Homo sapiens: one gene and its partners. The protein of the gene in region 1 interacts with the protein of each later gene in a pairwise test. Each region holds a gene or a part of one and is shown on either strand. Other genes may lie near its edges.

Region 1 (8,359 bases):
GCAGAACTGCAAATTTATTATTATTACACTGACCATTAATTGTAAAAGAGCATCTTTTGGTCACACTAGAGTTTTGCATTTTCTTTCTTTTTTTTTTTTTGAGACAGCGTCTCGCTCTGTCACCCAGGCTGAAGTGCAGTGGCGCGATCTCAGCTCACTGCAACCTCCGCCTCCCAGGTTCAAGCAATTCTCCTGCCTCAGCCTCCCAAGTAGCTGGGACTAGCCGCCCGCCACCACACCTGGCTAATTTTTGTATTTTTAGTAGAGACGGGGTTTCACCATATTGACCAGGCTGGTCTTGAACTCCTGACTTTGTGATCTGCCCACCTCGGCCTCCCAAAGTGCTGGGATTACAGGCGTGAGCCACCGCGCGTAGCCAAGTTTTGCATTTTCATAGTGAGGAAATGAAAAATTCAAATCTTGTTTCTAGTCGTCCAAAAAACTGCTGGGAAAAAAACCTTATTTGCTTTGGTCACAACTAAGAAAACTCTATCCAAATAAAAGGTTGGGGGTAAAGAAAGATCTCCCTAATTAATTCAAGAAATTGCCAAGATGTAAATAGTTTAACTCTGTAGATTACTAGAGATAGTCATGATATTCTAAAATCCAATGCACAAATGAAACTAAAATCCTGACCTACATAATGAACCACCACCGATAGATCTTTTCCTCTGAAATGTTACTTGCTCATTCAAGCAGTATGAAAAAAAGAAAAACCAGAGTATCGATTTCCAAGAATGCTATATTCTATCAATTTACCCAACTGTAATAAATGAAGCACTATTCAATTACAGTTCAACTGTATATATGCACTGGGGAAAGAGACTCCTTACTCACTATGGGACAGAAAACTTAAAAGGCATTGTAGGGTGCACTTAAGTGAAACTGGCCAAGGATGGCAAAAAATCAATTTTGCTTAAGGAAATTAGGTATTTATAGACAGTACACCTGAGTTTGGACTAGAATGATAAAGTTTTGGTAGAGATGACATTCCAGATGTAAAAAGACGAAGAGGCTGGGTGCGGTGGCTCAAACCTGTAATCCCAACACTTTGGGAGGCCGAGGTGGGCAGATCACCTGAGGTCAGGGGTTCAGGACCAGCCTGGCCAACATGAGGAAACCCCATCTCTACTAAAAATGCAAAAATTAGCCGGGCGTGGTGTGGCAGGCACCTGTAATCCCAGCTACTCGGCGGGGATAAGGCAGGAGAATCGCTTGAACCCGGAAGGAGGTGGTTGTATTGCAGTGAGCCAAGCTCGCGACACTACATTCCAGCCTGGGTGACACAGCGAAGACTCTGTCTCATTTAAAAAAAAAAAAAAAAAAAAAAAAGAGGACAAAGATATATTTGGGTACCACTGCTTAACAGTCTTTTGACTATAATACAACACAGTAGTACCACAGGGAAGGAGGAATCAACACTTATAATTCCAGATGAAGGTATTAGAATGACTTCTGAACAAAGAAAGGATATTTCCAAAGCAATGATTTAAGTGGCATTTTGGCAGAAATATAAAAAATTAACTGCAGTCCTAGAATCTTTTACAATCACAATATCCACATATTATTTGTGAAATAAACCCAAAAACCAATGATAAAGAAACTATAATGGAGATTAGTTAGAAAGTTATTTCAAAAAAGACAAGAGCCTGAAACTAGACAAAAAGATAACTTTTTTTTTTTCTTTTTTTTGAGACAGAGTCTGTCACCCAGGCTGGAGTGCAATGATCACAGCCCACTGCAGCCTCGACCTCCCCAGGCTCAGGTGATCCTCCCACCTCAAGTTTTGTATTTTTAGCAGAGATGGGGTTTCATCATATTGCCCAGGGTGGTCTGAAACTCCTCGGCTTAAGTGATTTGTACACCTCTGCCTCCCAAAAGTGTTAGGATTGCAGGCGTGAGCCACTGCGCTGGCCCAGCTAACTATTCTTTCTTTTTCTTTTTTGAGACAGAGTTTTGCTCTTGTTGCCTAGGCTGGAGTGCAATGGTGCAATCTCGGCTCACCGCAACCTCCACCTCCCAGGGTCCAGCGATTCTCCTGCCTCAGCCTCCCAAGTAGCTGAGATTACAGGCACGCGCCACCACGCCCAACTAATTTTGTATTTTCAGTGGATACGGGGTTTCTCCATGTTGGTCAAGCTGGTCTCAAACTCCCGACCTCAGGTGATCCGCCCGCCTCGGCCTCCCAAAGTGCTAGGATTACAGGCATGAGCCACCACGCCTGGCAACTATTCTTGTTAGCAAAACCAGGCCTTATAGTTTGTCCAAATCCACAGAATATACACCACCATGGCCGGGCATGGTGGCTCACACCTGTAATCCCAGCACTTTGGGAGGCCGAGGCGGGCAGATCACGAGGTCAGGAGATCGAGACCATCCTGGCTAACACGGTGAAACCCCGTCTCTACCAAAAAATACAAAAAACAAATTAGCCGGGTGCCTGTAGTCCCAGCTATTCAGGAGGCTGAGGCAGGAGAATGGCATGAACCCGGGAGGCGGAGCTTGCAGTGAGCCGACATCGCACCACTGCACTCCAGCCTGGGCGACGGAAAGAGACTCCGTCTCAAAAAAAAAAAAAAAAAAAAAAAAGAAGATACACCACCAAGAGTGAATTCTAATGTAAACCAGAGAATTTGGATGATGATGATCTATCAGCGTAGATTCATCAATTGTAAGAAATGTACAGGCTGGGCTCGGTGGCTCACACCTGTAATCCCAGCACTTTGGGAGGCCGAGGCGGGTGGATCACGAGGTCAGGAGATCGAGACCATCCTGGCTAACACGGTGAAACCCCGTCTCTACTAAAAAACTATAAAAAATTAGCCAGGCGTGGTGGTGGGCGCCTGTAGTCCCAGTTACTAGGGATGCTGAGGCAGGAGAATGGCGTGAACCCGGGTAGCACAGCTTGCAGTGAGCCGAGATGGCGCCACTGCACTCCAGCCTGGGTGACAGAGCGAGACTGTATCTCAAAAAATGTACCACTCTAGTGGGGGGGGGGGGGGGGGCGGGCGTGGACAATGGGCAAGGCAAAGCATGTATTGGGGCAGGAGATAATACAGGAAACCTCTGTACTTTCTCATCAATTTTACTGTGATCCCAAAACTGCTCTAAAAAATAAAATCAATTAAGAAAAAAACGCAAAACCTAGAAGCTATAAATCTAAGGGAACAAACGTTTAATTATCTGACTCGGAAACTGCTGAGTTCTGAATATAAAGCTTAAGAATATTATAGGCTCACGCCTATAATCCCAACACTTTGGGAGGCTGAGGTGGGTGGATCACCTGAGGTCAGGAGTTTGAGACCAGCCTGGCGAACATGGTGAAACCCTGTCTCTACTAAAAATACAAAAATTAGCCAGATGTGGTGGTGGGCACCTATAATCCCACCTACTCGGGAGGCTGAGGCAGGATCGTCTCTTGAAACCTGGAGGCAGAGGTTGCAGTGAGCTGAGATCGCACCACTGCACTCTAACCCAGGCGCCAAGAGTGAAACTCTTGACCCAAAAAAAAAAAAAAGAAAGAAAGAAAAAGAAAAAAGAATGTTAGATAGCGTCTTTGAAAATCCTTTTGGCTGGGTGCAGTGGCTCACGCCTGAAATCCCAGCACTTAGGGAGGCCAAGGCAGGCAGATCACCTGAGGTCAGGAGTTCGAGACCAGCCTGACCAATATGGCAAAACCCCGTCTCTACTAAAAATACAAAAATTAGCCAAGCGTGGTGGCAGGCGCCTGTAATCCCAGCTACTCAGGAGGCTGAGGCAGGAGAATCGCTTGAACCCAGGAAGGAGAGGTTGCAGTGAGCCGATATCGCGCTCCAGCCTGGGGGATACAGCGAGACTCTGCCTCCAAAAAAAAAAAGAAAAGAAAATACTTCCATCCCACTTTTATATTTCAAATAATTACTTCAACATTACTGTAATATTTATTGTGAGATATACATTTGGTCTTCATCCCATTTCCTGGCATACAACTTCTAAGATCCTTAGAATGGTAAGTTTCTTTTTGTATGCTGAGTTGACTGATAGCTTGGCAACTTCTAGGTAGTTTCTGCATGGGTGCTGGTCACCTGAAAGATCAAGGCAAGATGAGAGGATTAGGACTTTTAGCCCCACCTCCTCCAAACTCCAGGGAGGGAAAAGGTGCTAAGGGTTAAGGTGACCACCAAAGGTCAATGATTTAACCAACTGTGCCTCTGTAATGAAGCCTCCATAAAAGCCCATAAATGACTGGGTTCAGAGAGCTTCCAGATAGCTGAGGCACAGTGTAGCCAGGGGAGGGCATGGAAGCTCCGCGGCCCTTACTTCTCCTACGCACCTCCTCATCCATATCCTTTATAATAAACTCTTGAACCTAAGTGTTGGCCGGGTACAGTGGCTCATGCCTGTCTGTAATCCCAGCACTTTGGGAGGCTGAGGTGGGTCGATCGCTTGAAGTCAAGAATTCGAGACCAGCCTGACCAACATGATGAAACCCCATCTCTACCAAAAATATAAAAAATTAGCCAGGTGTGGTGGCGCATGCCTATAATCCCAGCTACTTGGGAGGCCGAGGCAGAAGAATCGCTTGAACCAGAGCGATAGAGGTTGCAGCAAGCCTAGATCGTGCCACTGCACTCCAGCCTGGGTGACAGAGCCAAGACTCCGGCTCCAAAAAAAAAAAACCCTAAGTATTTCCGAGAGTTCTACATAAGCCACTCTAGCAAGTTAACTGAACAAAAGAAGGGGGTATTAGGAACTCAATTTATAGTCAGTTGGTCAGAAACACAGGTAAAACCACCTGGGACTTGAGATTAGCATTGGAAGTGGGGGACTGTCTATGGGACTTGAGCTTTCAACCTGTGGGATCTGATGCTATCTTCAGGTACACCGTGTCAGAATAATACTGAATTAGAGGATACCCATGTGGTGTCCACTGCTGAATAGCTTGCTTGATGCGCAGGGGAAAACCCCACACATCTGGTGGTGTGAGAATATACTGGAAGAAAGTTTATGTTCTCAGAATCAACAAAAAATTATCCTACATGGTTGCAACGTATTCAACATTTCAGGAATTTCCCTGTAACAACTGTAACACAGTTAAGCAACAGGTATGCTGGAGGTTAGTTAATGCTGTGTTTTCCAGAATTAAAGATATAAATGCATTTCTCAAATATATACACTACATTCCTTTAAATCACTGTGGGTGCGACGGCTTACGCCTATAATCCCAGCACTTTGGGAGGCTGAGATGAGTGGATCACAAGGTCAGGAGTTCGAGACCAGCCTGACCAACATGGTGAACCAGATCTCTACTAAAAAGACAAAAATTACCCAGCCGTGGTGGCACGCGCCTGTAATCCCAGCTACTCGGGAGGCTGAGGGAGGAGAATCACTTGAACCTGGGAGGCGGACGTTGCAGTGAGCCGAGATCACACCACTGCTCTCAAGCCTGGGCAACAGAGCAAGACTCCATCTTAAAAAACAAACAAACAAACGAAAAAACTCAACAAATGGCTTCATATTAAGTCTACACCTCTAATTACTGCCTTCTCAAACTACGCTTTCCAGTGAACAATGCTTTATTTGGTTTGCTACATTCTTGCAAATTTGAGTGAAAAGTACACTTAAAAAAAAAAAGTATCATAGGCCAGTATGGTGGCTCACATCTGTAATCACGGCACTCTGGGAGGTCTTGGTGGACAGATCGCTTGAGCCCAGGAGTTCCAGACCAGCCTGGGAAACACAGTGAAACCTCACCTCTACCAAAAAAATACAAAAATTAGGCCAGGCGCAGTGGCTCACACCTGTAATCCCAGAACTTTGGGAAGCTGAGGCAGGTAGATCACTTGAGGTCAGGAGTTCAAGACCAGATGGCCAACATGGTAAAACCCCATCTCTACTAAAAATACAGGCCTGGGCAGTGGCTCACGCCTGTAATCACAGCACTTTGGGAGGCCGAGGCAGGTGGATCACCTGAGGTCAGGAGTTCGAGACCAGCCTGACTAACGTGGTGAAACCCTGTCTCTACTAAATACAAAAAATTAGCCGGGCATGGCGGCGTGCGCCTGTAATCCCAGCTATTCAGGAGGCTGAGGCAGGAGAATCACTTGAACCCAGGAGCCGGAGGTTGCACTGAGCAGAGATCACACTATTGCACTCCAGCCTGGGCAACAAGAGCAAAACCCTGTTTTAAAAAAACATATATATATAAAATTAGCCAGGCATGATGGCGCGCACCTGTAATCCCAGCTACTTGGGAAGCTGAGGCAGGAGAATCACTTGAACCCGGGAGGCAGAAGTTGCAGCAAGCCAAGATCATACCACTGCACTCCAGCCTGAGGGAGAAGAGCAAAACTCTCTCTCAAAAAAAAAAGAAAAAAAACAATTTTTGACACGTGTGGTTAGCATGCACCTGTAGTCCCAGCTACTCAGGGGCTGAGGTGAGAGACTGACCTGAGACCAGAATATCAAGGCTGCAGTGAGCAGGGATTGTGCCGCTGCACTCCAGCCTAGGCATTGAAGTGAAACCCTGTCTCAAAAAAAAAAAAAAAAAAAACTATTGTATACACTGGGGGGCAGAAGGTGTTGAGCCCCTTTTAACTTTCAAAGATTCATCTTTAAAATTGTGAGCAAACAGAAAAGGAATTGCTAGATTCTTCTATATATAGAGTCACTCAATGGGATGCCATTTTGAAACTTCACAGCAGGAAGTTTTAGTTTGGTCAGAGGGTCATTAAAGAAATGCCTCAGTTAATATATATGACTTGAAAGTCTTTTCTTTTATAAAAGTATATACCAAGTTCAGGCCGGGTGCTATGGCTCACGCCTGTAATCCCAGCACTTCGGGAGACTGAGGCAGGCAGATCACCTGAGGTCAGGAATTCGAGACCAGCCTGGCCAATACGTTGAAACCTCTTCTCTACTAAAAATACAAAAACTAGCTGGCTGTGGTGGCAGGCACCTGTAATCCAGCTACTCAGAAGGCTGAGGCAGAAGAATCGCTTGAACCTGCGAGGCAGGGGTTGCAGTGAGCCAAGATTCCACCATTGCACTCCAGCCTGGGCAACAGAGCGAGACTGCGTCTCAAAAAAAAAAAAAAAAAAAAAAAAAGATATACCAAGTTCATAAAATACAGCATTTCAAAATGGCAGACTACTAGGCTGGGCACGGTCACTCATGCCTGTAATCCCAGCACTTTGGGAGGCCGACGCGGGTGGATCACGAGGTCAAGAGTTCGAGACCAGCCTGACCAACATAGTGAAACCCCGTCTCTACCAAAAATACAAAAATTAGCTGGGTGCAGTGGTGCGCGCCTGTAATCCCAGCTACTTGGGAGGCTGGGGCAGGAGAATCGCTTGAACCCAGGAGGCGGAGGTTGTAGTGAGCTGAGATCGCACCACTGCATTCCAGCCTGGGCAACAGGGTGAGACTCCGTCTCAAAAAAAAAAAGGCAGACTACTATTTTTGTTAATGTGGGACAAAATACTCATAACAAATATTTTGCAAAATTTTTTTTTAATTTAATTTTCTTTTTTGTAAAGACAGGGTCTCACCATGTTGCCCAGGCTGGTCTCTAACTCCTAGTCTCAAGCATCCTCCTCCCTCATCCTCCCAAAAAGCTAGGATACAGGCTTGAGCCACTTGCCTGGGCCAAAAAAATTAGTCCCAAAATATGACAGCACTCAATTAGAATTATTGTGGACAAATTCCATTCTCTGGTATTGGGTACCAAAGACGTGTTTGTTATTACACAGAAAGAAATAATCAAGTTCATAAATTCAAACTGGTTAAAAAGAAAGCTTCTCGGCTGGGCACCGTGGCTCACGTCTGTAATCCCAGCACTTTGGGAGGGTGAGGCGGGTGGATCATGAAGTTAAGAGTTCGAGACCATCCTGGCCAACATGGTGAAACCCTGTCTCTATTAAAATACAAAAATTAGCTGGGTGTGGTGGCGGGCACCTGTAGTCCCAGCTACTCGAGGGGCTGAGGCAGAATTGCTTGAACCCTGGAGGCAAAGGTTGCAGTGAACCGAGATTGTGTGCTGCTGCACTCCAGCCTGGTGACAGAGCGAGACTCCATCTCAAAAAAAAAAAAAAAAAAAAAGTTTCTCATAACCAGATCAGAATCTATCCTAAAACATACTCAGAAAAAGTAACATGCAAGGTAATTTGAAATCAGACTTTAAAGCATGTTTTGAAAAGATGGCAAGCATTTCCATTTGTTTTCATAGCTTTTTTTAATGACTTGACTCCAAATAAGAAGGATGTCTTATTATTTAGCTTGACAACATCTATGTTAAAGAGACTAGGATCTAAACCCCGAAGAGAAATTCAGAAACTAGAAAAAAAGAAAATGAACCCGGGGTGTTAAGCTGGGAACCAAA
Region 2 (8,359 bases), on another chromosome or scaffold:
ACAATTGGAATCACAAATTCAAGTACTCCAAGGAACCAGTCAGTTAACGTAAACAGGCCCAGCGTAAGAACAGCAGCGCAAGCTTGATGATGCTCAGTGGCTACTGATCAAAAGCCTCAGTGTTGGGAACCGTCAGGGGTCGGGGGGCAACGTGACATGGTATGGAGAAAATGCACAGGCCCTTATGAAGGCAAGTGGCTCTGACTGACTGCTGCCATGTGAATCCAATGTCAGACTTTTCAGGTTTCCAAAGGAAGCCAGAAATCTGGAATTTAATATAAAACATTTGCATTAAAAAAATGCCAATTCACAGAAAAAATGTGGGCCAAAAAGGCACATTTGTGGGACTAGGTGCAGCCCACGGACCACTGATTTTTGACCTCTGGTTTAGTGACACTGATGCGTTAGCTGGAGGCTAAAACTGTCTTGAGGATCCATAAAGGATTCCTGATGTGGCAGCCTCAGAGAGGTACACAAGTGAACCACCAAGAAGTCTACGAGGAGGCTGGAGGGCCCAGCTGGTGGGCCAGGGGAGGTCCTGTAGGGCAGTCATAATTGAATTAATGCAGCAGGCAGGACATTCTCCTGTTGAACGCTTATGACAAAAACCAAAAAGGTGCCCAAATGCCCAGGCTGCCCTACACAAGATGGTGATTCCCCAACTCCAGTGGCCCCCGCATGCAGACCTTCTGGGCTTACTGTTTCCTCCCTGCACCATCACTGCCCAACACTACGTATATACTTTAATTCGTGTGTTGTTTGCCACCCTCACTAGATCTAGACCCCTCCATGGCAGGGTTTTGACTGTTTTGCTTCCTGCAGTTTCCCCAGCTACTAGAGTACAGCCTAGTACATGGCAGGTCCCAATAAATTCACTGTGTATGGTGATCTCTGGGCCCTGACATTGCCCAGCAACCCTCCAGGGGCCCCAGTCAAGTCAGTTCTCTGTTCCTGTCCTCTACATGGGCTAATGCATGCTCCCTCTCTACTCGTGCTGCTGCTCCTAGCCAGCCCTCCTCCACTCTGGGCTAGTATTCACACTCCCAGAGAGAAAAGAACCCCAGAAGGTGGCCTTGGCCCTCTGGCCATGACAGCCTGGCCCACCTGTGCAGCGCTCTTTCCTGCTCCTTGCTTCACGAGATGGATGAAGTGCCCTTGTCCTGCTGGACACAGGGATCTCTTCCCTCTTCATTCATTCTCATCTCCACTTGTTCCTTTCTAACAGCTCTGAAACATGCTCACGACTTTGCCACCTTAAAATCTCTCTACTCTGGACCTTGCCCCTCTGGCTGAGAACTGGTCTTCCGTATCTGGGACCTTTTATTGTCCTCACTGGACACTTGGAGCTCTGTGCCTCCTGCTGTGCTCATGGGCATGTCAGTGAACTGACACAGTCATCTGCCAACTTGCCCAAGTTCTGAACCATGTCTATCCTATCTTCTTTGCTCCTGTATCCAAATGGTTACGAAATCTTGGAATCATGCACTGTCATTGCTTTCAAATCCATCATCTCCACCCCAGGCCACCACCGCCACCACCAAAACATTCGCTTGATGTTCTACTGAGTGTGCTTAATATATTTTTTTCTTGAATAGAAAACCACCAGAGGATCCTACTTTGCTCTCACTGGATAATCTTTAGATACAATATTGCACGGTGATAGGGAACTTAAATTATTTTAATGCTATTTGCTATAAAAAACACTACTCGGAGTATTCATGAATATATAATGAGAATAAGCTTTTTTTTTTTTTTTTTTACTTGTAAAGAAACATGAAATACCTTTCCTACCTGGACCAAGCAACGGTGATCGATTCAGCTGAGTACCGGCCTGGTGCGGGGGCGGCGTCTCGACCCTGTGTGTGGTGTTGCTCGTGGTAGTGGTGGTGGTGGTGGTGGTATTGGTCGTGGTACTGCTCTGGATGACCGGGTTGTTTCTATCCCACATGTTTACAGTTTTATTGTTATAGTTGCTTGGGTCCCCCCAAGCTGAGGTACCATCATCAATTTCCATTTTGCGGCGAATGGACGGTGGAGAGGGTTCTTCCCAGCCAGTTGCTTCACTGCTGTCCTTCTGTTTGACCGGTACCGGCCCCCCGATCCACCCTGTTCCTGTCTGTTTCACAGAAGCAGCTCCTCCCCAGTTACTCACATTGTTGTCTTGGGGTTTGCTAGCCCAGTTCTGTTGGGGGCCAGGTTTTAAAGTCTCCCCCCAGTTTGTACCTGGATTGGCCTTTGTATTTGTGCTGTTGCCCCAGCCACTGTTCCCAGATCTCGTGGTGTCATTCCAACCAGACCCTGACCTATTACTGTCAGCATCCCATCCAGATCCATTTTTTTTCCCATCCCCCAAGTGTCCAAGGACAGACGATGAATCTGCCCAATCTCCCCCTCCTGCACTCCAGGCTGGATTTGATCTTTGTCCATCTCCCCAGTGTTGGGATTTGGGCTTTGGAGGCTCACCCCAGGTGGGTGACTTGTCCTCCTGATTTGCGGCCCCACTCCAAGCATGGCCACTCTTGGCAGCAGCAGCAGTACTAACAGCAGTAGAGCTTATCGAGTCCCCCCAAACCCCCGGGCCACTTGGCGCTTTGTTGTTGCTGTCTCCCCAACCTGTGTTTGCTGGCACAGCGGCAGGTGGCGCGTTGACCCACCCAGATACTGAAGAGGTATTTGTACTGTTCATGATGGACCCATCGTTCTTCCCCCCTGAGTTTGAAGCCTGAGTAGCTGCACAACCCCAGGCCTCTGTCCCATTGTCATTTTTCCTTTCAGACCTAGGGGATTCTTCAAATTCCCAGGCAGTGTTTTGCTTTACAGGAGTCTGTCCCCAACCAGTATTAGACAGAACTCTTGGGTCAAGATCATTCCTTGGCAACTGGATGTGCCCTTGGTCTATAATCCCTTTATCTCGCCTTCGGCCTTCTCCCGTTCCTTCCCTCCCAGTGCTTCCTTCATTGTGGTTGCCAGAACCATCACTACTTCCTTCACTTGCTGTAGTTCCAGAAGATGCCGCTTTGGCCCAGGAGTTCATGTGTTCACCACCAGGCTGTACGGTAGGGTTCTGGCTGGTGACACTAGGACTCTCCCACCCTGTTGATCCTTTCCCATTGATGTCACTGTTGGAATGCTGGTTTGGGGGCTTTCCCCATTCCCCATTCACACCGTTAGAGGTGCTTCGGCTGGGGTGGCCCCAAGCTCCTGAATGGATATTACCAACGCCATTGTTGCCACTGCCCCTTCCCCAGGCGAGTATTCCAGGACCAGCAGGAGGTCCTGAATCCCAAGCATTTCCTCCACTTCCTTCCTTTTGCACAGCACTGCTGGATCCATTTTGTTTAGCACTTAATGCTGAGTTCACAGTGTCTCCATTCCCCTGACTGAACCCAGAATTGCTATTTCCTGTGGCAGGGTTACCTGGGGACAGTCCCCACACAGAATTGCTTATTCCTTCAGCACTGCCCCCACTGACTTGAGAAACTGATGATCCATTAGCACCAGGAAGGCCTTGCAGGTGGGGCGGGATGATGGCCCCCATACCAACAGCCATGCCCCAGTTTGGCAGTCCATTTGTCTGCATTGCATTGATAGGGTTGGGTGAAGAGTTCATGGGGTTAGTGTTATTTGGTCCATCAGTGTTAAGGTTCTGAGGTTGTGCGCTGAAAGACACATTCTGAGAAGTGGACGTTTGTGGTTCTGTGCTCTCTTGTGGCAGCAAGTTTCCCCAAGCACCTAAAGTGCCTGTTGGGTTCCCGTTCTGGTTGCCCATATTTTGACCTATGGCACTGACTGGACTGCAAATACTGGAAGGGTTGCCTGTCGCCACGGTTCCTTCATGTCCAAGTACAGGCCAGGCAGCTGGGTTGGCATTAGGATTAAGGTTAAGATTAATGCCAGCATTGGAGTTGGAAGCACCCCAGCAATTCTGACTTCTCCCATCTCCAATCATAGTGTCCATTTTTCCATCCCCACCACTGACAGAGCAGTGAGCCAGGCCAGAGCTGGAGCCTGTGGCTACACCCCACACTCTGGCCGCACTTCCATTACTGTTCGCTCCCCCTGCTCCAAGGGCACTCTGATTAGAAGGGCTTTGGACGAGTGCGCCATTGGTGCCATTATTGCCATTTGTCTTCTTGGTATGTCCAGTGAAGTTGCCCTGGGCACTCCCTGTAGCCATGCTACTGTTCTCTGAGCCACAGTTGGAGGCAGAGTCAGTGTCTGTAGTACATTCTGAGGCAGATTCAGTCTCTGTTCCTGTGATGGAAGGCCACGCCTCCTTGTCAGTCCTATCTATTATCACTTTATCCCAGCTGCAGTTGGCTTCGCTTCTGTAAGTAGGCTGCTGTCCCCAGTGGGAATTTTCATAATGATCTGCCAATCCACTATGACTGAGATCTGAAAAAGATGAAACAAAATTCAAAATTAGATTTTCTACTCATTTGTCAATGAATCAACTGTTAACTAGTCTTTGGGGAAGCTCTTTATTTCAAGTCTTCAAATCTGAATGACAAACACTAAAAAAATGACTTAAAGAAAAAAGCTATTTGTCTTCTTAATAGATCCCATTTTAAAGAGCGTTAATGTTTTTAAAATTATATCAATTCTTACCACTACACTGTACTATTATTCCCCCTGGAGAATACTCACAATGCACGTTAGCACATCAGCATCTCTGAAAGCATCTGTAGTAAAGGCAGCTTTGAAAGATAAGTGACTTTGCAACTCCTATAAATACAGAGACTGAGAAACACTGGCAATGACAGTAAGTTCACGTAGAGTTTTGAATAAAACTTGTAGTTCTCTTTAAGACCTCTAATTAGGTTACAGTATTATATAGAGGCGAAACATGGCTTTCAGTAGAAAAAAATTGTAAATTGCATTGCAGAATCATAACAGAACCAATATTTGGGGTGGGGGAAGTGGTGACGGAAGGAAAGAGAGAAAAGACATATGAGACAATGCTATCTTATGTTATCAAAAATACTAAGGATTAGAAATGTTTAATTAGCTGTATACTACTTTATCTGATCTTATCTGCAATTTGGTTTATCACTGTCTCCTGCACATTCATAATAAAAAAAAAAAATCTGTAGCTCAAGGACATCACTAAAAGAAGAAAAAGAAGGAAGAAGAATCTCAGCCCCACAAGTGCTATCTTTTTGGATCTCTAAAGATTCTCTCAATCCTTGTTTTCTATTTCTTTAGAGCCTTTTCTTTGGAGATCCCTAGAATAACTTTATATGCCATCTTCTTATAGTATTTAACTCTTCGGGTCCTTTTAAAGAATCCCCTGTTTGGATCTACATTTTATTTCCTATGACTTTAACAATTATTTGAGTATTTCCAACATTGCAGTCAAACTTATATTTCGATCAACTTTTTGGCAGACTTTATTCCAAGTATGTATCACTAAAAAATAAAGTAAAAGAAATGTTAAAAAAATAATTTAACCCAAACATACAACAAACTCACATATGTGATTTAGAAATCCTTGGTGAGTTTCTCTAAATACTACAATATACAAATAAACTGCAATAAAATATTTTCTTCTCTTTTAGATCCTTTTAATTATGTTCTCTTCAAATTTATTTTAACAAGAAAAATCGTATGGACAATTAAAACATGAATTTCCCACATAAATTCTCTTTTAAAGTTTGATGGAGCTAAAGGAAAAAAAGGAAGTGTGCAAAAAAAATTAGCATTAGAAAGACCATACTAAAGCTAATATCAACCTAAAAGAGATTTTTATTGCCTGATTTAAGAGTAATGTAATGATTTTAGAATTATGCTCTAGGTGATTTCAAAGTAGGTACGTAATTCCAGGTGAAAACTACAAAGGAAAAATGAAGACAGGCAACAGAAAACTTTAAATGTTGAAACTGCTATAAAATGACTAGGTTCTTTTCACTGCCAATTATTAGGGGTTGGCTCTATAACCCTGGTTTATGACAATTTGGTTTTGCACATACTCTAAAAACTATCTAATATAATAACTAACTAAAGAGATAAATAAGCCATTCCTCATTTAACACAGAAAATAAGACCAAGTTAACACACAGAGATTATGGCTTGTTGCCAGCAAATATTACCACATTTCATTTTACCATCAGTTTGGGTTCCCTCATGGACAGGTTGTGCCATAAGGCAGGCTGCCTCTTGACTAAGACAGCACTCACTGCAACCCACACCGAGAAAGCAGGGGGTTAACAACCTGGCTGACCAATGCATTCTTTTCCATATGTGAGGTGCCATTCGAATACACAGTATTATTGGTTCCATTCCACAACAGTCACACTGTAAAATGATCTGCCCTTTGTTAATGGTCTACTTTGAGGACTTGAGGATTGCTCAGCCCCCAATTTGACAGGTTCATACTCAATTATATGACACGTTTGAAAGAAGGATAGCATTATAAGCTGGTGGCTAATAAATGCTGTTGGACAACTGTCTAGCCACATGAAATGAAAGTAGATCCCTTATATCGTATACATGCCAGATAAAGTAAAGAGCGAATTAGGAAAAGCAAAACTTCTTAAAGCTTATTAAGGAAGCAAAGGAGACCATCTCTATGACCTTGGACATTGTATCATCTTGTAGAAGACATGAAATACGTAAGACATAAACAGGTGATAAATTTGACTATGCTAATATTAAAAACATCTATATAACAAAAGATATCATATAATGAAAGCTAAAAAAACAAGCCACAGGCAGGGAGAAGATACAACAGATAATGTATGGTTATCAGCTTAAAGAATTCCCGGCCAGGCGCAGTGGCTCTCGCCTGTAATCCCAGCACTTTGGGAGGCCGAGGCAGGTGGATCACCTGAGGTCAGGAGTTCGAGACCAGCCTGGCCAACATGGTGAAACCTCGTCTCTACTTACACAAAAATTAGCCGGGTGTGGTGGTGCACGCCTGTGGTTCCAGCTACTTGGGAGTTGAGGCAGGAGTATCACTCGAACCCAAGAGGTGGAGGTTGCAGTGAGCCGAGACTGTGCCACTGCACTCCAGCCTGGGCAACACAGTGAGACTCCATCTCAAAAAAAAAAAAAAGAATCCTAAAAATCGGTAAGAAAGAGGCCAACAACCCAACCAGAAATGGGAAAAGGATAGGAACAGGCAATTTAGAAAAGAGAAAACTCATAAGCCATTAACATATGAAACAATAATCAACCTCATTAATAATCAAGAAATGCACTTTAATGTCACACTGTAGATGAAAGTGACACAACACTACAATTTTTGAATTGTGGTTCCCTCTGGGGGTGGGATGGGGACCAGAATGGGGTTAGAGGATGATACCTATAACATTTTTAAAATAGAGAGCCCTGAAGCAAATATGGCATGATATTATGTTAAATCTCTATTGTGAACACAGTTATATTATTTTCTATATACTTTCTTCTATTGAAAAAATATTTTCAAAATTTTTAATTTTTATGTTTAAATGTGATACAAATCAGGCGGCAGAGCAGTCTGATTAAAAACCCATCTGATCCCTGAATTAAGTGTCTAATTTCTGAAGGTGAGTTCCTTGAGGGCGTGGCAAATATCTTTTTAGTTTTCCATTCAAAATGCTTGCCACATATAGGCAAACAATATATGCTTCCTGGGCAAACAAAACCATACATGCATAGTGCTACAATCTGAGTTCTAGCTGAAGTCACCAATCAGCTGCACTTGTACAGCCCAGACTGCTTTGAACAAGCACGTCCATCTTCTGAGGGAACCACTTCCACTACAATGACGCCGCCTACTCAGACCTTCCCGGGCTTTGAGGTGTAGATCTCAACTATGCCACAGCAAAATAACCACCAATGGGGCAATACTGGCAGGAAGCAAAGTCACTTCTACAAAGGCCAATATCCATCCCCAATAGCTGAAGTGCCCTAAGGATGGCCATATAGGATGCCATAAGGATGAAGTCATGCCTGTTGAGTTTACATATTGGGTATTTCTAGAACCTTTTCCATTAAAACAAGAAATAAAACTTCCCTCTGACTGCCCCTGTTCCAAGCACCCTCATGTCTTGACTGGATTACTGTAAATAACTTTCCAACAGGTCTCTTCCCATGCCCCCTACTGCCCCACCCACAATAATGTGCTCAACACTGCATACAGTGCTCTTTTCCAAATGAATGCCCAGTGGGTCACCAATGGTTGGGTCTCTTTTGAGGCCATTCATATCATTCTTTCTCCTGCTCTGTGCTCCAGACAGTTCCTTGAGGTGCCATCTGTGTCCTGCCCTCCCAAAGACAGGGCTGTTAAAGGTGCCATCCCCTGCCTGGGCTCAATGTCTATTCTTTTTTCCCATCTCAAATCCATGGACATTTAATTTGGGACGTTTTTGTTCCCTAG
Region 3 (5,839 bases), on another chromosome or scaffold:
CAAAGGCTAGTGTGGAAGCAGGGAAAGTGGCACAAATTAGGCTAGGAAAGAGAAGCAGAGGCTGCATCCTGAAAGGCCTTTTAGGTCTTGTTAAAGATCCAGATAAGAAGAATGCTTCATTCTGCTAGATTTGACATTTTGCACGGGGACCATTTGGTGTATGTAGTACAGACCTCATCCTACAAGCTAGTAAGTTTCACTTGTTCTGTTCTGTTCACCAAACATGACATAAAGGCATGTCTTGAAAGCACTGAGGATTTTAGTGTTGTCTTATACGGTGCTTATCTTTTTTTCTGTTGTTTTTCAGGGTATAATAGACTACATTTTCTATTCTAAACCTCAGCTGAACACCTTAGGCATCCTGGGCCCTCTGGACCACCACTGGCTGGTTGAGAATAACATCAGTGGCTGCCCGCACCCCCTCATCCCCTCTGACCACTTCTCACTTTTTGCACAACTGGAGCTCTTACTGCCTTTCCTGCCCCAAGTCAACGGCATCCACCTTCCTGGCAGGAGGTAGTCAAGCACCTTCAGAGGACAGCCTTGATTCACTTGTAAACTTGTGAAAATCTGAACATAGGGGAGTGAGGTATGGCCACTGAGGATTTTTGCTTGCTTAAGAATGATTTGGACTTTCAATCTGATTATTTGATAAGGATATAGTATGAAAGCCAGGTGCTAGCAACAGACAAATTCTGAGCCCAATATGCTTTATACTGCTAGACAGGGATTGGTGTGTTTGCACCTGTCTTTCATTTGTCATAAGAGATTTTCCTATTTCTTCTACCCAATAGAATATTTTCATGCCTGGAAATAGGAAAATGTGTGAACAGCGTATTCTCTTCACACAGAAATCTGTAGCACTGCTTTTTTGAGGCCAGTAGCAACATCCAGAGATCATTCTTCCATACTTTACTCCCTCCTTTTTCAGACTTGTTTGTAAAGTACAGAATCTGAATTTAGCCTTTATGATTGTATATGATCCACAGAAGACCTGATTTATGAAATTTTGTACTAAAATCATTTGGAAATGATTGTATTGTAAACTGAGGCTAAATTTTTTTTTAAACCTGTTTCATGTGTTATAAAGGCCAGCTTGTAAAAGAAGCTGCAACAGACTTTCTCTGCTCATGATTTGCACTCTTAGGGTTTTGTTAGCCCTTTTGTACTACTTTCTTTTTAAATTGAGAACATGGTTCTTTACATATAAATCTGCTTCAACCTTAGGATGTTTTCAGACCAGAGGCAACTTATTCATGAATTTTTATGAAAACTATCTACTAGGACAGATAAGCTGAACAGTGATGATCTGTAGACATTTATGGACTGAATGTAATGGTTGATATATGTACATTCTGATATTTTTAAATCTTTAACTTTTTAAAGTTAAAAACCTACAGCTGCTTAGGTCCAGCTTCTTAACTCTTTTTGAGACACTTCCTGTCCTATCTCCACTGTGCCTGCCTAAATTTGTTCTCACCAAGCACTGCCTGTGCATGCAGAGAAAATCTGTGCATCCTCTTTTATATTTTTAAAATACTGTTTAACATTTGTGAGAATTTTATGAAAATGCTTTTGTATGAGCTGTGGCTTTTTCCCATTGTGAAGCATTGAATATCACATTTTGGAACATGTTATAGGGTGAGTCCCTGGATCTTTGCTCACCAGATCCAAGCACTGCTTCTCGGTGTCATTGCAGTGTGCTGCTTGTCACCCAGAATACTACTATCATGTGAATTCTTTTTGTCGTCAGTGTCTTTTCCTTAGTCTTTTTGTTGTTGTTGTTGTTGTTGTTTTAATCATTCCTTTTTTAAGAAGAAGTAATTTTCCATTTATGAAGCAGTATGAATTAGATGTATTTTCAAAACAGGTCCCTAAGACAATTCTTCAGATCATTTTTAAAATGACTAAGTCATTTTAGTATGTCAAGCAAGATAAAAATTACATCATACCGTCTATTTTGCCCATAGTGCCATTTAGAGATGAAAACCAGCTTTAACTTTGCAAAGTGAACATGTACATGGTCTGCTCTCATTTATTCATTCTTCTCTCAAAAGTCAAATGAATGCAGAGGGAGCTTGGTCAAACTGCTTTTGTTTCAACTGCAGGCAGGGGAGCAAAAGGACGCCATGTGAGCATTAGGAAAAAAAATACTCACTCTTACTAACAATTTTTATACAGAAAATGAGTCATTTTGGAAATGATTCTTATGTTTTTTTTTTTTCTCCTTTTAGAAAATTCTCCAAAAGGTTTTGATGTTGAATCTTGGTCTTGGACCTGTTTTTTCCTTTGAGGGTTTTTTGTTTTTTGTTTTTTCTAGGATTTCATTGTGATGTTTTGGTTTTGTTTTTTGCTTTTTGTTTAAGTTGTGCTGACACCAAACACATCCAGTTTATAATCAGTACATTGGAAAGCTGGTATTGATGTAGAACCAGTGCATAACTTTTTATGGGGTTTTGTTATTGGTTTTTTTTTGTAAAGTGTGAATAAAAGGTATGTTTACTCATTTTTCCTGAACACTGTGTTGGTAATGTGCATCATGACAATTTCCAGTGAAGGTGAGCTGGAGCTGGTTGGACTAATGAGACTGAGGAAGCAGCTTTTCCTACGATCTGCATTATGTAATCACAGGTCCAGAGAGCTTTATGGAAGCGGGAGAGGAGGAGCACTTACTCATGTTGTATTTGTTAATGGAGGATGTCATCTTTTCATAGATGCTGGAACTAGAGTGCACTTGTTAGATGCTAAAGGTTTGAGCTTTACACAAAATGTCTTCATCTGTATTTGTTATTGTCTACAATATATTTGAATTTGGGGCAGCATATTAAGATGTAATGGCCTGTTATGTCTTGAAAATACTTGTTTTGCCTCTTCCAGGCATACTGCATTCTGTGGATCAGTTTGAACAGCTTCTCCACCTTATTTGGACAGTGATAAATTGAACCAAGAGTGTAGATTTACAAGTGTAACCTTCAAAAGAGGAAGAACTATTTGGGGTCTGTAGGTAATGAACAGTCACACCAAAATAGACTATGATGCTTTTGTTAAGAAAGGTTTCATGTTTTAGATATTTTCCGTGTCCTAAATAATTTTCAATAATCTATAATCCCTAAAATGCAATAAAAACTAGTATGTTTTCACGGTGTATATTTTTTTTCAAAAATTCTGTAACAAATATATTTAATGTGTTGCCATAATGTCATTTCAGTATTTTTGCTGGATAAATCCATTTTAGAAATGTCTTACAAAAAGTTTAGGGCATGTTTTCTGTTTTAAAGACCAGAAGTTTGAAGGCACCCAAATCCTTGTCGCCAATCTCCTGAAGTACAGCTTTACCATATTAGTGGTCATTATTTATGCTTTGAGAGTTTCAATATTGTTCGTCAAGTTAACTTATGGCATAATTTAAGCTAAAGTTGTAGAAATGAATTGTTGAGTGCAACTTTCATAGTCCCAAAGATAGGCAGAGAACATCTCCAGAAATGTGTGTGTGTGTGTGTGTGTGTGTGTGTGTGTTTAATATGATTTAGTGACAACCAGGAAAACTTACTTGGGATTATTAGCACTTTCAAACTTAGGGACATTATTAAATTGGATGGAATGCACTTCTAAATGTTTAAATTAAAATTTCAAAGCTCTTTCGAGATTCAGGTTCTCAATAATAATATTCAAGTTTTAGAGTTTCACTTTGTACTATTTAAATTTATGGAACTAGTTTCCATACTGACTTGTAAGGTTTTGGGGTCATATATAAGGACTAAAGCCAAGCTAGGCAAAACAATGACAGCACCGTTTTTTCAGTGAAGCTCTCAGAATGTCCAGTACAGATGTTGCAGATAATTCCAAGAACTCCTTCAGCAGGTGTTCTTCACCATTCGTAAACAGTATTTTAAGATGTTCACTTTGCTCTTCTTTTTGGTTACATACATTTTAATAACTGGTATGTTGAAGTAGTGTCTAAAAGTATCTAGTCTTTATTCACAGTACATTATATTGTGTGATGCACTGGACTAACTCTTGTTTACCATTCATGTAACAAAACCCAGCACATTATCTGCACTATAAGCTCAAAGAATGTCACATCCGCCCAGACAGCTCTTTGATGAGGGTGATGGGAACTGAATAAACCATACGGACTGGCAGTAACAAGGGCTTTTACTGTTCTGTTCAGTGGAACCTTCTTGGTCAAATTGTAATTAGCTAGCATTATATTTATATACAGGGTCTTTTTTCTTTACCGATGTATTTTCCTACTCATAGCCAACCAATAAATTCAGTATCTGTTTCAAATATTTTAGAAGTGTAGTTTGTATAGCTGTAGTACTGAGGTTTGAGGAAAAATAAATGTTGATCAGCAGACCACGTATTTAAAATTCTGAATCTTCTGGGACAGGGTTGTAACTCAGCCTTCCAAAGGGAAGAGTGCAGGGGGACGGGGCCATGATATGGGGAAATGGTGTAAACTAATGTATTTCTTTATTGGCTGTTATTCTGTATAACACTCATATCTTTGCCAAAGTTCAATTTTATATTTAGGCAACTGATGGTCCTTTTGCATTTAGGATTTTCGTTGTTGTTACCTTATACCTCATGATATAAGGAATGGGCTCATGTGTCTTCCGTCTTTTGGAAGGAGGTTGACATATTTTAAATAAATGCTTTTAAATACAGTAGCAAACATTGTGTTGGGGTTATAATAATTCATTAAATGTCTTGTTGCCTGTATTTTGTTGTATGTGTAAACTCTAAAAACGTGTGACTTCCTAAGTCTTCCGATGTCACCTTACAATTGAGAAAACAACATGAGTTCCTTTGCTTTTAGAACGACTTCCATAGCAGACGTACATTTTTATGTACATGTGGGAAAAACCATGCAAAATCTGGACAGTTTAGATAATATTTCCTTTGATCTCCAGTTTTTAAAGTAGGCATGTTCTACTTAATCCTTAATACAGTGATGCACATTAGGGGGATGTATGCTGAGAAATGCATCCTTAGGTGATTTTGCCATTGTGTGAACATCAGATTGTATTTACATAAACTAAATGGTGTAGCCTATTACACATCTCGGCTGTGTGCTTAGCCTGTTGCTCCAAGGCTAGAAACCTGTGCAGCATGTTACTGTATTGAACACTGTAAGCAGTTGTAAGACAATGGTAAATATTTGTGTATCTAAACATGGAAAAGACAGAGTAGGCTGGGTGCGGTGGCTCACACCTGTAGTCCCAGCACTTTGGGAGGCTGAGGCAGGTGGATCACGAGGTCAGGAGATCAAGACCATCCTGGCTAACACGGTGAAACCCCGTCTCTACTGAAAATACAAAAAATTAGCCGGGTGTGGTGGCAGGCACCTGTAGACCCAGCTACTCAGGAGGCTGAGGCAGGAGAATGGTGTGAAACCTGGAGGCGGAGCTTTCAGTGAGCCAAGATCGCACCGTTGCACTCCAGCCTGGGCGACAGAGCGAGACTCCGTCTCAAAAAAAAAAAAAAAAGTGAAAATACAGTATAAAAAGTGGTATGTCTGAGGCTGGGCACAGTGGCTCACGCCTGTAATCTCGTTTTGGGAGGCCGAGGTGGGCGGATCACTTGAGGCCAGGAGTTCAAGACCAGACTGCGCATCATGGCGAAACCCCATCTCTATAAAACATAGAACAATTAGCTGGGCGTGGTGAGACGCCTGTGGTCCCAGCTACTTAAGAGGCTGAGGTGGGAGAATTGCTTGAGCCCAGGAGGTGGAGGTTTCAGTGAGGAGATTGTGCCACTACACTCCAGCCTCAATGACAAAGTGAGACTCTCAAAAAAAAAAAAAAAGATACCTGAATAGGCAGCTCTAATATAT
Region 4 (8,359 bases), on another chromosome or scaffold:
TCAAGCTGCTTTAGAATACGAAATTATAGGGCTCCAGAATATACATTATTCCCCAAGTTTATCTCTAGAACTTCTATCATCAGGAAATATATTATCAATTTTCTATGGTATATGTAAATCTCTCATTATAATAGATAAAATAAAATGGCAAAGTTCAATACTTCACTTTAATTTTTAGTCTGCTATAGTTCTCAAATCACAGTAACTTACTTACTTGTAAAACTGGCCTGGTCTGCACTGCCCTCATAATAGCTGGATCTTCTAGTTCATTTTCAATCACCATCTTACTGAGCCTTTCTGCCAGATTCTCCTCATGGTCACCCAACAAGTCCATTTCATCTCTCTCTCCATTGCCTGTTTGTTCATTAACTGCCACTGGTAGCTTTTCTTCCAATTCAGCCAGGCGCTCATGTGCTTCCTGCCAATCATCATCTATAAGATGACACAGTTCATGTAAGAAATAGTTCATAGTGGTACAAAAAAGTTTTACACAATTATTGTTTTTTTTTTTTTAGACAGAGTCTCACTCTGTCGCCCAGGCTGCAGTGCAGTGGCGTGATCTCGGCTCACCGCAACCTCCACCTCCCGGGTTCAAGCAATTCTCTGCGTCAGCCTCCCAAGTAGCTGGAGTAGCTGGGACTACAGGCGCCCACCACCACACCTGGCTAATTTTTGTATTTTTAGTAGAGGTGGGGTTTCACCATGCTGGCCAGGCTGGTCTCAAACTCCCGACCTCAAATGATCCACCCATCTCGGCCTCCCAAAGTGCTGGGATTACAAGCATGAGCCACCACGCCCGGCCTACACAATTCTTCTGCTAAGCAAATGAATAATTCCAGAAGATAGGTAGAAAGTTAAGTTTACACTTAGAAACAGGAAATAAGGTTTAAACTAAGGGACACGTAAAGCATGCTTTTTATAAGTAAAAGCAAATAACATTATACCAGGAATAAAATTCAAACATGTGAATTAATAGCTTAAAACATTATCAATAATGTCCAAACTATATTCTGAAACTGTTTCCCAAATTGGTGATAGATATGTATAGTACTACTAGTTGGTTTTGAGATTCTATGACATTTCAAGCAAAAACTTTAAAGGGAAGTTAAAACTCATAGCATTAGCATACAACTTCCTCTTAGATTTTAAGTGCCACATTCTTTACATGCTTTTGAATCCATTCGTTCCATTCAATTAATATTTGGTAAGCATCTATTATGTGACAAGCCCTGTTTTAGACGCATGGGATACATTGGTGTACAAAAAGACACAGAGATTCTGCCTTCATAACACTTTCATGCAAGCAGGAAAGAGAGAGATGATAGACAATAAGCATAATGATTAGATACTATACCAGAAGATGAAATTGCTGTAGGAATATAAAGGAAGAAAGGCAGATTGAAAATTTAAATAGATGGTCAGAGGTAGGCCTCATTGAGAAGATGACATTTGAGCAAAGATTCTAAAGAGTAAGAGGGTTAGCAATTTGGATATCTGGGAGAAGAGGGTTCCAGGCAGAGGGACAGTCAGTATAAAGAAAGGCCTTAAGGTGAGAGATTGATGGTTTTGAGAAACGGCAAGGAGGACTGTGTCTGGAATGGAATGAGCAGGGTGGGGAGAGTAGAAGAAAATGAGGTCAAGAAGTCATGAGGAGGGAGCTCATTCTGGGCCACTATGATTGAAATGGGAAGCCAATGGAAATTTTCATTTGGCTTAACTTTTAAAAGAATCACTCTGGCTGCTGTGCTGAAAACAGGCTAGGGAAGAGGAAGGGGCATTTCCTCTTTTATCTTAACTATGTCTGCTATTACTGCACACTACTATAAAGTCTGTAGCACTGACATTAAGGTTGTTTCTGCATTTGGTATGTTGGCATCATTTTTTCTGTTTTGGAATCCCATTACAGCACAGATTACAATCTTCAGAACCCTCTATCAGCTGCTCTGGAGCTAGACCTTACTTCCAACGCATCTCACTCCAGTTCTCTCCAATCTTATTCCATTCTGCTTCCATCATGAAAGCTGTACTCACAGTTTTGCTCCATTCAGTATTTTTATTTTTATTTTTTGAGACAGGGTCTCACTGTCGTCCAGGTTGGAGTGCAATGGCGTGATCTGGCTCACTGCAGTCTCAACCTCCCGGGCTCAGGTGATTCCCCCAACCTCAGCCTCCCAAGTAACTGGAACTACAGGTTTGTACCACCACACCAGGCTAATTTTTATATTTTTTGTAGAGTCGGGGTTTCCCCATGTTGCCCAGACTGGTCTTAAGCTCCTGGGCTCAAGCAATCCACCTGCAACAGCCTTCCAAAGAGCTGGGATCACAGGCTTGAGCCACTGCCTCTGGCCTTTCTTTTCAGGTATTCAAATGTGAAACTTCTTCCTCCTCCTCAATGGAGCTACTCCTAAATAATCCTTTCATTTTATTTCTTCCTTTACCTCATCTCTATATGCATTACTTTCTAACCCACAAAAAGTATTATTTTGTATATGTTATATGGTATTCTTTTTTTAGTTACATCCTTTATATGTTTTATAAAATTCAACAGACAGGGATAACAGGTTATAACCAACACAGAAACAGAGACTTTCTTTTTTCTGCTTTCAGAGAAAATACATGTTTAAAAAATTCAAACACCATAAACACATGTAACTTAAGTGAAAGTTCCCCACAATTCCACAGCTGTGTTAAGTTTTAAACAGTTTTAAGCTGTGTTAAGTTTATAAAGTTAACTTGTTTCTTTTTATTTAAGCAATATGTCTTGGACATCTTTTCATGCATGCACACAGGCATAACTACTGATAGTAACTCATTCTTTTTAATACCTACATAAGATTGCATTTTATTGCTAAACTATAATGTAATTTATCCCCTACTGGTAAACATTTGGATTATTTACAATTTTCCAATATAATAATTAATACTGTAATAACATCATACATATCTTAGCATTTTATGTGACTATTTAAATAAACTAATTTCCTTTTAGAATCAGATTACATTAACAGTTAAAATTTGCTATATATATGTAATTTTTAATCATACAACGATGTATCACATAATACTAGTGATCCAAAGAGTGAGGGAAGTGGGACTTTCAAATATATAATTTTGGTATCATAGGACCCACTGCCTAGTTTGGTTGATTTATGTATTAGTTGTGGTAAGGGATTCCTTAAGTTGTGGATCACTGTGCCATCACTGGGATAAAGACTGTGGGCAAAAGCTATAAAAATATCCTTACTTAAGCCTCCGGGACATGGGTCTTCTTTATAATTATGTGGTATTTTCTTTCCCACCCAATAGTTTCCTCTTACCTGAGTGACTAGTCAGGTGGCACTCTTCCTCTAAACTGTCATCTTACAGAAAAGAATTTAAGGTAGCCATTTTATGATGATGGTCTCTGATAAGCCTATCCTGATGTGCTCCAAAAAATGGAAAAATCCACTTTAAATGAAAATTACAGTGTTAATTTAAATGACTAGTCATATGAAAGAAAATATTTAAAGAATAATGTAATTAAAAACCAAATGTGACATTCATATTTGTGTCATCCTTGGTAAGGAACAGTAAGCTGGGACAGGATAAATTGTTTTTTGCAACTTTACTAACTTAGCAATGCCACAAGAGTGGGAATCTATCATCCTGAATTGAGGGATTTGTAAAAACATTTACTTCCCAAATTTAAGAAGTTAATTTGTTAGTGGATTTGTTCTAATGCAGTAGAGTTCTAATTTGCATGCTTTTCTATCACTACTTCCAGTATTCATGCTTGCTAACTTTACCAAATCCTATCAAATATGGATAATCTATTTCCCCTTAATAATAATATTTTAAAAATATTGGTTAAGTCGCCATATTCTGTGAGAATAGATCTCTGGTGAATTGATTGTTACATTTTCAAACATGTAACCAGAGGAATCTATGCCATAAAATACCATCATCATCATTTTAGATTTTTCTTACTCTTGTAAAAAATTATCTGAAGTAGTATTTTAGAGATATTGTGCCCTTACTATAAAACAATATTTCACCCTGTATCTTTTTCAAATGACCTAAAAATATAGTTACTTAGATATGCCAGTGCTTGACCTGAGTCCATTATTGGTCAAAATGATAAAAGGTAGGCAAAAGAATAACAGACAAATGAAGGGAAAGAGATTATCCGTAATAACGAACTAACCTATACTCTGATACGGGTTACTGAATTCCTGGCTGCTTCTATAAACTTATACTTGTAATAACCCCTGAAGCCTGTCTCAGGGAGTTTTGAATGAAAACAAAATAAAAAGGAAGAAGTGATTTAATTTTAAGGCAATCTCAATCTCTAAAGACTATAGTAGCTATCAATAAAAGGGAGGTAGGAAGGAGGGTGATTCCTTCCAAGTGGAGGCAGGAGATTTCCAAAGACTCCCCCAAAACTATTAAACATAACTAGTAGTTTACAGTAATTGTGTCTATAGTTACTTAACCCGTCACTCTTCCTCATTTGTTAAAATGAGGATAATAATAGTACCTATCTCACAAGGCTGCTATGAGGATTAACAATATATGTAAAATATTTAGAATGGTGCCTAGCACATAATAAGCACCATGTTAAGTGTAAGCTTTTATTTTTAGAGAAGGAGTTGGGATTACTGCAACACTATTTATTGCTCTAAGATGATGCAAACATTTTTTCATGCAGAAGACTAGTTTCTTAAGGAAAGGTGACCATTTGTAGCCAGTGACCTAAAATGTCTACTGTAATAGCAGGTATTATTCCAGATGCCCGCTATATGAATTAAAAATCATAAAATCAAAACAAATGTCAAAGGTCTGACATTTCACCTCTTGATTTAAACTCTCTATACCAGCTTTATATCAACCTGCAGAGGAGTATCAAAGAAGTCACAGGTTGACTTGGAAAACAATTTTCTTTTTATAGTATTTACACCAAGCTGTTATGAGGAATTAAGATCTTCACTTTACAATTCCAGTACATTACACTCTCAAGGGAAAGGGCTCACCTTTGGAAATCTTTTCTCTATATTATTATAAACTTTCTTGGCCAAAAAATCCTTTCTAATCACCCTTTGGCCCTAAGGTACAAAGTGGGCTAATCATATGCTATTTAATTGCCTTAACTTTGTACTACCTGTTCTTTTACTGTGTAAACCTAATGGCTTTTTCAGCACGTGTACACTTTTCTTCTTTCCCATCATATAAAATACCGTTCCGGACACTCTAACATCCTTTTAAGGCAATATTATTCCCATCTTATGAGAAAAAATAGAAACTCAGGAAAAAAAGACTGTCCATAGCACTCTGGAAGTCAATGAGAAGGTATGACTCTTCCTCTTCTGTCCAGGTTGAAAACTGAGAACATGGTACAATGCTGCCTCATTTTAATGTCTATAAATCAATTCTAGCTAATTCATTTTAATACTGAAGAATTTGTTGAAAAAATGGTTAACATTCAGTACAGTATTTTAATAGAAAAAGAGTTCTAGAAACAAGCACATGTTGGTAGCTTCTATGGTATTCTATTTTTAAAGTATTTAATTAACTTTTTAGAGACAAGGTCTCGCTCTGTTACCCAGGCTGGAATGCAGTGGCACCATCATAGCTGATGCAGCCCTGAACTCCTGGGCTCAAGGGATCCTCCAGCCTCAGCCTCAACCTCCTAAGTGGTACATACCATCATGCCTGGCTATTTTTCAAAAAAAATTTTGTGGAGAAAGAGTCTCACTATGTTGCCGAGGATGGTCTTGAACTCCTGGCCTCAAGTGATCCTCCTGCCTTGACCTCCCAAAGTGCTGAGAGCTGTGGGCTTGAACCACCACAAATAGCTTATTGTGTCCTACTGATTATCACTAAACTATCTTCCAAATATAATTTGCAATTCACATCAGTTTCCTGCTTTTGTAATTCCACTCTACATCTCTTTGCCTGTGATCTCCATGGAGAGAGATAATAGCATCTTGGATCATGTTATCCTCCTGGACAATCTCATCTCCTAACCCATGCCTATAATCCAAAAGGTCTTTGATTCCTTTCCATCATGAGTCTAGCTTCTACTTTCAACACTTTTCTTGCTGCTTCTAATCATAACAAAGTTTTAGTTCTCTAATGAATTTTACAAATGACTGACAATATTAAAACACCTTCATTTTTGCCAGTTTATTCAAGTCAGTCTAAGCTTTAATAAATGTATTAGGTCACTGCAAAACCAGTGACCATTATAATACTTTAAGGCCTCTTATTTGTTTTTGATATTCAACATCTTGGGATTACTGACTATTGCTAAATTTTCTCTTTTTCCTTATGACTTAACTTGGAGTATTTGTTGCACAGACAGAAGTGTTGCGACTACAAAAGAATCACACACATTTATACATTTGAACATAAACGCTGTTATTGCTGCTTTCCAGCACCAAGTCTAAGCAAACATATCTGCATTGACTCTTACCTATTCATTTGCTTAAAAATATACAGTTTTGGCCAGGCGTGGTGGCTTGCACCTGTAATCCCAGCACTTTGGGAGGCTGAGGAGGGATCACTTGAGGTCAGGAGTTCATGACCACCCTGGCCAACATGGAGAAACCCTGTCTCTACTAAAAATACAAAAATTAGCCGGGCGCTTGTGTTCTCAGCTACTTGGGAGGCTGAGACAGGAGAACTGCTTGAACTGGGGAGGCAGAAGCTGCAGTGAGCCGAGATCATGCTACTGCACTCCAGTCTAGGTGACAGAGCAAGACTCTGTCTCAAAACAAATATATGTGTATGTATACAGTTTAAAAATTTAAATTTCAATTTATTACTCCACTTGTTCTACACCTGTTCTAAGTAACATGTGTTCTCAAACTTTATCATATAAGCTTACTTCCTAAATTTTCCATCTTGGCATTTATAACCCCGTGGCCTGTAACCTTAGTTTGGCTCTTCAGTTTTTAAACTTTTTCCAACTCTTAAAATATGTATCTATAGGCTGGGCGCGGTGGCTCAGGCCTGTAATCCCAGCACTTTGGGAGGCCGAGATGGGCGGATCACGAGGTCAGGAGTTTGAGACCAGCCTGGTTAGCTCGGTGTGGTGGCGGGCACCTGTAATCCCGGCTACTCGGGAGCCTGAGGCAGGAGAACTGTTTGAACTCAGGAGGCGGAGGTTGCAGTGAGCCAAGATCGTGCCACTGCACTCCAGCCTGGGTGACAGAGCAAGACTTCATCTCGAAAAAGAATAAATAAATAAATAAATAATATGTATCTATACCCAGGGATGGACAAAATTTCATCTGTGCATACTTTTCTAACTTATGAGTCCTTTCTTGACCCCCAAAATTCTTGCTATAAAAAGCTTTATATTTTGAAGATACTATAAGTTGCAAAGTTATATACTAGTGATAGACTAAATTTTGAAACACATATACCCACATCCTAGAATCTGAATTTTCTACTAGTACACTAGTTTTCCATAAGTTATATGTTATACAAATAAAAATTCCTCTCATCTAGGATTAATTTAAATCTCTCTTAAATGTTTACTTCTCTAAACATTTGAATCCCTCATAGGGGCAACCTGTAGTCATCGATCATATAGCTGGAAGGGGCAAGGCTTACAGAATACCTGATTTTATAGGTAAGGCAAAAAGAGACCCAGAGGAGCAGGATAGGTGCTGTTTCCAGTGAAGAATGAACTATTCTAAGATGAGGAATAGAAGAATATCTTGCCAAGTTAGTGAATAAGGTTACCCCTAATAAGATAAAGCACTTCTAAAAGACAGCACTTGAAAAGAGCAGGAGGCTAAGATGATATTATAAGCGAAAGATGTCACTTACCAACTGCACCTGACCCAAATGTATCATCATTGAATTGATCAATCTCTTCATCTTCTTCTCCCAGTCCCTGAAATGCATCTTCATCTTCATCCAGAGGACAATCCTCCAAAGACTAAAAAAAAAGAAAAGACATTAGTTATTCATGAAATTCACACCCTCATTTTAAAAATGTTCTAAAAATGTTCATCTTACCTTCTCAATGAACATAATTGCTTCATTATGACTTTTTGTAAAGATGGCATTTTTTTTCTACTTCCCAATTTCCCTGACACTGGAAGATTTCATCATCTTTCTTTCACTTTCTATTTCCTAATCCTTATTTCATTTAATTCTTGCCCCACCTCACAGCATTCCATTTCTCTATTTTATCAAGAATCCACGAACAGCAGTTCCTCATGCAACCAAGAAATTAAGCCCACAACTTTCCTTACATCACTGGTTGGAATACTGATGACAATTAATAATGAACCCTTTATTTTCTTGTATCTTTATGTATCTTTTCCAGCAAAATTCTCATCTTTCTCATTATATTCATGTCATCTTT

Evidence for each region.
Region 2: the proteins of CNOT1 (region 1) and TNRC6C interact in binary tests that used the Homo sapiens proteins (3 or more experiments, as listed by UniProt).
Region 3: the proteins of CNOT1 (region 1) and CNOT6 interact in binary tests that used the Homo sapiens proteins (3 or more experiments, as listed by UniProt).
Region 4: the proteins of CNOT1 (region 1) and PATL1 interact in binary tests that used the Homo sapiens proteins (3 or more experiments, as listed by UniProt).

Annotation. Positions count from the first base shown.
Region 1 is NC_000016.10:58,619,346-58,627,704, forward strand, and holds part of CNOT1 (CCR4-NOT transcription complex subunit 1), read right to left. Parts: intron 1-8,359.
Region 2 is NC_000017.11:78,044,881-78,053,239, reverse strand, and holds part of TNRC6C (trinucleotide repeat-containing gene 6C protein), read right to left. Parts: intron 4,396-8,359; coding exon 1,792-4,395; coding exon of another isoform or gene 1,783-1,791; intron 1-1,782. UniProt on the Homo sapiens protein: Plays a role in RNA-mediated gene silencing by micro-RNAs (miRNAs). Required for miRNA-dependent translational repression of complementary mRNAs by argonaute family proteins.
Region 3 is NC_000005.10:180,573,681-180,579,519, forward strand, and holds the end of CNOT6 (CCR4-NOT transcription complex subunit 6), read left to right. Parts: intron 1-307; coding exon 308-520; 3' UTR 521-4,678; downstream 4,679-5,839. UniProt on the Homo sapiens protein: Poly(A) nuclease with 3'-5' RNase activity.
Region 4 is NC_000011.10:59,659,038-59,667,396, forward strand, and holds part of PATL1 (protein PAT1 homolog 1), read right to left. Parts: intron 7,928-8,359; coding exon 7,816-7,927; intron 433-7,815; coding exon 215-432; intron 1-214. UniProt on the Homo sapiens protein: RNA-binding protein involved in deadenylation-dependent decapping of mRNAs, leading to the degradation of mRNAs. Acts as a scaffold protein that connects deadenylation and decapping machinery.